Linked DNA regions of Homo sapiens. The protein of the gene in region 1 purifies or fractionates together with the protein of each later gene. This does not show direct contact. Each region holds a gene or a part of one and is shown on either strand. Other genes may lie near its edges.

The links.
Region 2: the proteins of MIS18BP1 (region 1) and HJURP purify together in Homo sapiens (affinity purification with western blotting, with the first as the bait; one study listed by BioGRID). This does not show direct contact.

Annotation. Positions count from the first base shown.
Region 1 is NC_000014.9:45,246,576-45,250,377, forward strand, and holds part of MIS18BP1 (mis18-binding protein 1), read right to left. Parts: intron 3,564-3,802; exon of another isoform or gene 3,456-3,563; intron 803-3,455; 5' UTR 712-802; coding exon 168-711; intron 1-167. UniProt on the Homo sapiens protein: Required for recruitment of CENPA to centromeres and normal chromosome segregation during mitosis.
Region 2 is NC_000002.12:233,841,036-233,844,535, reverse strand, and holds part of HJURP (Holliday junction recognition protein), read left to right. Parts: intron 1-252; coding exon 253-331; intron 332-2,330; coding exon 2,331-3,500. UniProt on the Homo sapiens protein: Centromeric protein that plays a central role in the incorporation and maintenance of histone H3-like variant CENPA at centromeres.

The DNA of each region.
Region 1 (3,802 bases):
CTTATTTAATATGTTAATTATGTCTTCCCACCATGTGAATATGAGCTACACAAGGGCAAGGATTTTTGTCCATTTTGTTCACTGCTATATTCTGAGCACCTAAAACAGTGTCTGAAACATTAAACACTTAAGACATTACAGCTTTTTAGCTAACACATAAAACTAACCTCTTAGTGAACTGTCATCTGACTGGAATGATTTGTTGTTTTCCTTTTCTTCACATAGGTAGGTATGCTGCAATTTTTTTTTTTCAACTCTGTTAGGAGTGAAGGTTTCATTATTTCCACTTTTCTGTGGTTCCAACAAACTACTGTTTCTTGATGGCTGTTCTTGCTTGTCACGCAGTACTTTTTCTTTCATTCTTAGAAATATTTTTCCTGGTGATTCATAGTTTGCTTTATTTTTTAATCCATCCTTGTTGGGCTTTATAGCACTGATATCAAGAGAACTGTTAGAGGTAGTAGCCTCTGTTAGCATAGTTGATTGAAATATATTTTTATTGTTAAAAGTTGTCATTTTTAGGAACTGATTCTTTTTATGGTCATTCAATTTTAAGGAGGAGTTCTGATATTTCACCAAATCTTTTACAGGAGTAAGTGTGCCTGAAGGAATGCTGTCAAAAAAGATTGCATCCATGGGTAGATTTCTCCTTTGAGAAGATGCCTCTGGAGGTAAGTAAATTCTTGAATGTTTCAAAGGTGTTGCAATCATCTTGACAAGAAAGTAGCAACCAAGTTCTTCTAACAGAAAATTCACTTAAGCGCAATTTTCAGATAGAACTTCAGAAGGGATCCACAGAAACCTGTAGTTCAACGTAAAATCAGCCTTTATCATGCTTTGGTGCAGAAAATGTTTAAAGTTTATTTGCTTTCCACAACATTATACTAATTAAAATGTTTAACTGGTTCATAACAATACTAGATAATCACAAATCAGACTAAGATTTTATTTTTGTTAAAGTCTCCTTAACAAAAGAGCTGGGTGTGATGGTGTACACGCCTGTAGTCCTAGCTACTTGGGAGGCTGAGCAGGGAGGATCACTTGAGCCTGGGAGGTCAAGGCCACAGTGAGTCATGATTGTGCCACTGCATTCCAGCCTGGGTGACAGAGCAAGACCTTGTCTCAAAATAAAATAAAATAAAATAAAACAAAATAAAAGATATATGCATATGGCACTACATTAGGTTACAAAAGATAAAGTTCCACAAATATAATTTTTCCCTTTAGGCAGTTAAATTTTAAGGCAGCAACTACAAGATCTATTCTAATAAAAGCTAAAAAAATACTATTCAATTAGTTAATAATACCCAATCCTGATTTTTTATGCTCCAGAGCATTTACATTTTAAGGTCTTAGTTGAAAAATCCTCAAATAAATGGTAAATTGTTTTCATTCTGATTTTTTTTAATGTAGTGCTATTTAGAATTTTTAGCAGAAATACTGTACTTGAGTTTACGTAGTTTTAGTCTTGTTTCTTTCGTTTTTTTTTTTTTTTTTTCTTTTTTTGGAGACAGAGTTTCCCTCTTGTTGCCCAGGCTGGAGTGCAGTGGTGATCTCAGCTCACCACAACCTCCGCCTCCCAGGTTCAAGCAATTCTCCTGCCTCAGCCTCCCGAGTAGCTGGAATTGGAATTATGTATGCACCACCACACCCGGCTAATTTTGTATTTTTGCTAGAGACAGGGTTTCTCCATGTTGGTCAGGCTGGTCTCAAACTCCTGACCTCAGGTGATCTGCCTGTCTTGGCCTCCCAAAGTGCTGGGGTTACAGGTGTGAGCCACCGCGCCCGGCCACAACTTGTTTCTTATGTATAAATTTTATTATTCACACCTAGAAATTAAGGTTCTAGGTAAGGAACCATATAGTTGCATTAACTAATATTTGGTAAATAAATAAAACATTTCAATCCAAGGAGCCTGGAACTTACTAGTCTAGATTTACAGCATCTCTTATAGCTGAATTTATAACTATTCCAATTAGTTAACATCATATAAACATAAAAAAAAACTATCACAGAAAATTCTAACATAGCCAGACCAAAAAATATCAAGTATCTTTATCTACAGCAACTTCTGTGAGAAATAAGCAATTAATATACAAAGTATTATTTAATCCAATAATTTATGATAATAGAGAAAAAAAGAAGGAAAATATTCCTAAATTACAACAGCCAACAAAGAAGGCTATCTTGGGAGTCTGGAGTTCCTAAAAACCACTATAATTCTTTCATAACATACGAATCCTGCAAATACATATTAACGCATGCATGTATATGTTTATGATGTGCTAGTTCCAGGGGTTCTGTATTAGAAGTTATAATATTAGCCGTTCACTTCATTTCTGTTTTATTTTTGAGACAGTGTCTCTGTCACCCAGGCTGGAGTGCAGTGGTGTGATCAGGGCTCCCTGCAACCTCGAAATCCTGGGCTCAAGCAATCCTCCTACCTCAGCCTCCAGAGTAGCTGGGACCACAAGTGTGTGCCACTGCACCTCAGCTATGTTTTTTTTTTTTTACTTATTTGTTTGTTTGTTTCTGAGAGGGAGTCTTGCTCTGTTGCCCAGGCTGGAGTGCAGTGATGCGATCTTGACTCACTGCAATCTCCACCTCATGGGTTCAAGCAATTCTCCTGTCTTAGCTTCCCAAGTAGCTGGGATCACAGGCACATGCCACCCCACCCGGCTAATTTTTGTATTTTTAGTAGAGACGGGGTTTCACCATATTGGTCAGGCTGGTCTCCTGACCTCAGGTGATCCACTTGCCTCAGCCTCCCAAAGTGCTGGGATTACAGGCATGAGCCACCTGAGTTATGTTTTTTTACATTTTTTTGTAGAGACAGAGTTTCCCTATGTTGCCCAGGTTAGTCTCAAACTCCTGGGCTCAAGTGATCCTTCTGATTTGGCCTCCCACAAGTGTTGGGAATACAGGAGTGAGCCACCATGTCTGGCTTAGCTGTTCATTTCAAAGAAAGGCAATAAAGCTATACAATCTCTCAAAATCAAAAATGAATAAACTCGGCTGAGCACAGTGGCTCACGCCTATAATCCCAGCACTTTGGGAGGCCAAGGCAGGAGAATCACTTGAGGTCAGGGGTTCAAGACCAGCCTGGCCAACACGGTGAATCCCCGTCTTTACTAAAAATGTAAAAATTAGCCGGATGTGGTGGCACATGCCTGTAGTCCCAGCTACTCAGGAGGCTGAGGCAGGAGAATCACTTGAACCTGGGAGGCGGAGGTTGCAGTGAGCTGAGATCGCACCACCACTGCACTCCAGCCTAGGCGACGGAGTGAGACTCCAACTGAAAATAATAATAATAATAAAAATAAACTGGAAGACTGCAAAACAAAATGGCAAAGAATGTTCAGGTTTACACAATCTCAATTCCTCAGAGCCTAATGAAATGCTAAACAGAAAGTAAAAAATGCAAATAAGCGAGCAGCACTGAAAACAGAACCAACCTGTAATGGACATGCAGAACTGTCTTCATTTAAAGTCAGATAATTGTGGTCACGTTGAAAGGCTCCAAGAACCAAAACAGAGCTTTCTGTTTCCTAATGTCCCTGCCCCTAATTCAGGCAAGTAGTAGGATAAAGGTGATTAGCCAAGATTCTGAAAAAATCCTCAAATTCCACTTCCCCTCCCAAAGAAACAGAAAGTTGCTCTAGGAGACCTTTTTCCCACCATGTGATAAACAGCAACTCAATATAAGCCAAGAAAAAAATCGTCTACAATTTCCTCTGACCACAGAGGCTCTGCAGAATAGATAAACAAGAAAAACCACTGGGTCTAGATAATCCAGGACACA
Region 2 (3,500 bases), on another chromosome or scaffold:
GAAGTTACTGGCAGGTGAGTGGTGACTGTGGCTGGAAGCTATCCTGGAGACCACATCAACTGTCCAGATCTTAGTAGGACATATTTTCTTCCCACTGCCCGAAGCCTAGCTGGCCACTGTCACCACATTCACACGCTTGTCGACATGGCTGTGCTAAGATGCACAGTCCGCATCGTCAGGGGAGAACCCAGCTCCTTGCACCCAGTTGACACCTGGCAACTTTTTTCTTGTAACCACTGGCTCTGATTTCAGTGTGCAGGTAACAGAGCTGGAAGGGATGTACGTGTGACTCCGCTGCCTTCACTGGCCTCACCTGCCGTGCCTGCCCCCGGTGAGTGTGACATAGAAACTGTATGAACAGTGCGTGTTTCCTTCACTTTTGTTGGAGCTGCGTGGCCCCTCAGAGCTGCTCATACTGGCCACGCCATCATTTCCTGGTGTGTTTCATCAACATAACTTGTTAGAGATATACTTGGATTTCACTGGAAGATTAAGATGTTTCAAAATGAGCTGTTTTCTCCTCCACGTCTGCTCTTTATTCCAGTTTACTAGCTTGAAAAGTTTTGCATCTCCAGAAGCACAGGACTAGTACAGTGAACACCCTTCACTTGTTTCACAATTAACATGTTGTCATATCTGCGTTATCACCCCCTGCCACACACGTGCACACACAGTGTGTATTTATTTGCATTTGTGTATGCATTTATCCCTAAATGCCTCACACATACCTCCAAAAATCGGCTAATTCTCCTTTATGACTACAGTACGCTTAACACAGGCCAGAAATTGAACATTGATGCGGTACTGTTCTACCCATTGTGCCAGTGACGTCCTTTGCAGCCTTTCTGGTTTGCCTGATCGTTTCCGGACCCACTCAGGCTGGTACCACCGTTGCGTTTAGTCTCCCTCCATCAAGAGCGGCTCCTTGGCATTTTCTCCCTCATGGTCACCTTTCATATTATTGCCTTTCTTGAATAGCACAGGCCAGTAATTTTGCAGAATGTCCCTGAATTTGGACCTGATTGCTTCCTCGTGGTTAGGTTCACGTTAAACATTTTTGGCAAAATTACTACAGGGATGACGTGTCCTCTCAGAACATTTGGTCAGTCTGTCCCATTCTTGGTGACTTTTAGGCTGGTCATTGAGTTAAGGTAAGACCTTACTTCGATGTTTCTCATTGCGACAGGCCCTTTTTCCCTGGAGTCATCTATGTGTGATTCTTTGAGATCTCCTAGGAACCTTTTCTCTAAAAGCTTCTCACCCAGTGACTTAGAAGCCAGCAATGCGGATCGCCTGGGTGGAGGTCCCCGCCCAGGTTGTTTCTGTCTCTGCCGTTCCTTGGCACACGTCAGTTGGCATTATTCTGCTCAAAAGAGCTATCTCCCCTCTGGTTCTTTTTTTTGCTTCCTGTAGTTCCCTCTCATGCTTTGATTTATTTTATTTTTATTTTTTAGGATCAGTAGGAATTCATGGAGTCTTTTTGTTCTTTGATTCACATGTTATAATCCATTGCCGGTATGCAATTTGACGCTCAAGTAACCCCAGATTTAGCTGTCAGGGAGCCCCTTTCAGGCTGGCTTTTGTGTCGTGTAGTGCAACGACATGCGTTTTTGAGCACTTCTTCACCCCTGCCCTGATGCCATATCTGCCTCTCCCAGTTCTCACCAGCCGCAGTGAGTTAACACGTGCTCATCTGGTCAATTGTACAGCATAAAATAACTCTAGCATTGCAGCACCTGCTACCACTCTTCACAACCATCTACTAAATAAGCTTGAAAATTTCCAAGCAGCTCTTTTTATCCTTAGACAATATCTCTTTAAGAGGCAGACACTCAGAGTATTTGGACTCTTTTTTTTTCTCTTTATCAATTTAACATACAGATTTTTTTTTTGTTTGTGTTCAATTTTATGGTTTTTTCCCATCACTGTTGGTTTTTTTTTTTTAAATATAGGAAACATTTACATGATGCAAAAGTCAAAGCTATATGAAGAGGTTTGTTTAGAAGTCTTACACCCCTTCCCATCCATGTAGGTAAACAGTGTTGTCATTTTTCAGTTTCTAATTAGCTTTTGAAAAGGCATCCATCTTCTAAACAGCCTAGAGGGAAAGGAAGACACCTTTGGGAAATGTACGATGGAGAGTAGAAATCAAATTTTGATACCAAAAAATATCTCTGAGAAGAGTCTACTCCTACACATTTGTGGTGTTTTTGTTTTTGCTATTGCTTAAAAAAACATAGTCCTGATCCAATCTTAAGTTCTGTCATCTGTGCACATGGATGGTTTAGAATGGTAACACACCTTTACTTTATGTGTATCTTTTCTCCCAGGATACTGCAGTCGTATCTCCAGAAAGAGTCCTGGTGACCCAGCGAAACCAGCTTCATCTCCCAGAGAATGGGATCCTTTGCATCCTTCCTCCACAGACATGGCCTTAGTACCTAGAAATGACAGCCTCTCCCTACAAGAGACCAGTAGCAGCAGCTTCTTAAGCAGCCAGCCCTTTGAAGATGATGACATTTGCAATGTGACCATCAGTGACCTGTACGCAGGGATGCTGCACTCCATGAGCCGGCTGTTGAGCACAAAGCCATCAAGCATCATCTCCACCAAAACGTTCATCATGCAAAACTGGAACTCCAGGAGGAGGCACAGATATAAGAGCAGGATGAACAAAACATATTGCAAAGGAGCCAGACGTTCTCAGAGGAGCTCCAAGGAGAACTTCATACCCTGCTCTGAGCCTGTGAAAGGGACAGGGGCATTAAGAGATTGCAAGAACGTATTAGATGTTTCTTGCCGTAAGACAGGTTTAAAATTGGAAAAAGCTTTTCTTGAAGTCAACAGACCCCAAATCCATAAGTTAGATCCAAGTTGGAAGGAGCGCAAAGTGACACCCTCGAAGTATTCTTCCTTGATTTACTTCGACTCCAGTGCAACATATAATCTTGATGAGGAAAATAGATTTAGGACATTAAAATGGTTAATTTCTCCTGTAAAAATAGTTTCCAGACCAACAATACGACAGGGCCATGGAGAGAACCGTCAGAGGGAGATTGAAATCCGATTTGATCAGCTTCATCGGGAATATTGCCTGAGTCCCAGGAACCAGCCTCGCCGGATGTGCCTCCCGGACTCCTGGGCCATGAACATGTACAGAGGGGGTCCTGCGAGTCCTGGTGGCCTTCAGGGCTTAGAAACCCGCAGGCTGAGTTTACCTTCCAGCAAAGCAAAAGCAAAAAGTTTAAGTGAGGCTTTTGAAAACCTAGGCAAAAGATCTCTGGAAGCAGGTAGGTGCCTGCCCAAGAGCGATTCATCTTCATCACTTCCAAAGACCAACCCCACACACAGCGCAACTCGCCCGCAGCAGACATCTGACCTTCACGTTCAGGGAAATAGTTCTGGAATATTTAGAAAGTCAGTGTCACCCAGCAAAACTCTTTCAGTCCCAGATAAAGAAGTGCCAGGCCACGGAAGGAATCGTTACGATGAAATTAAAG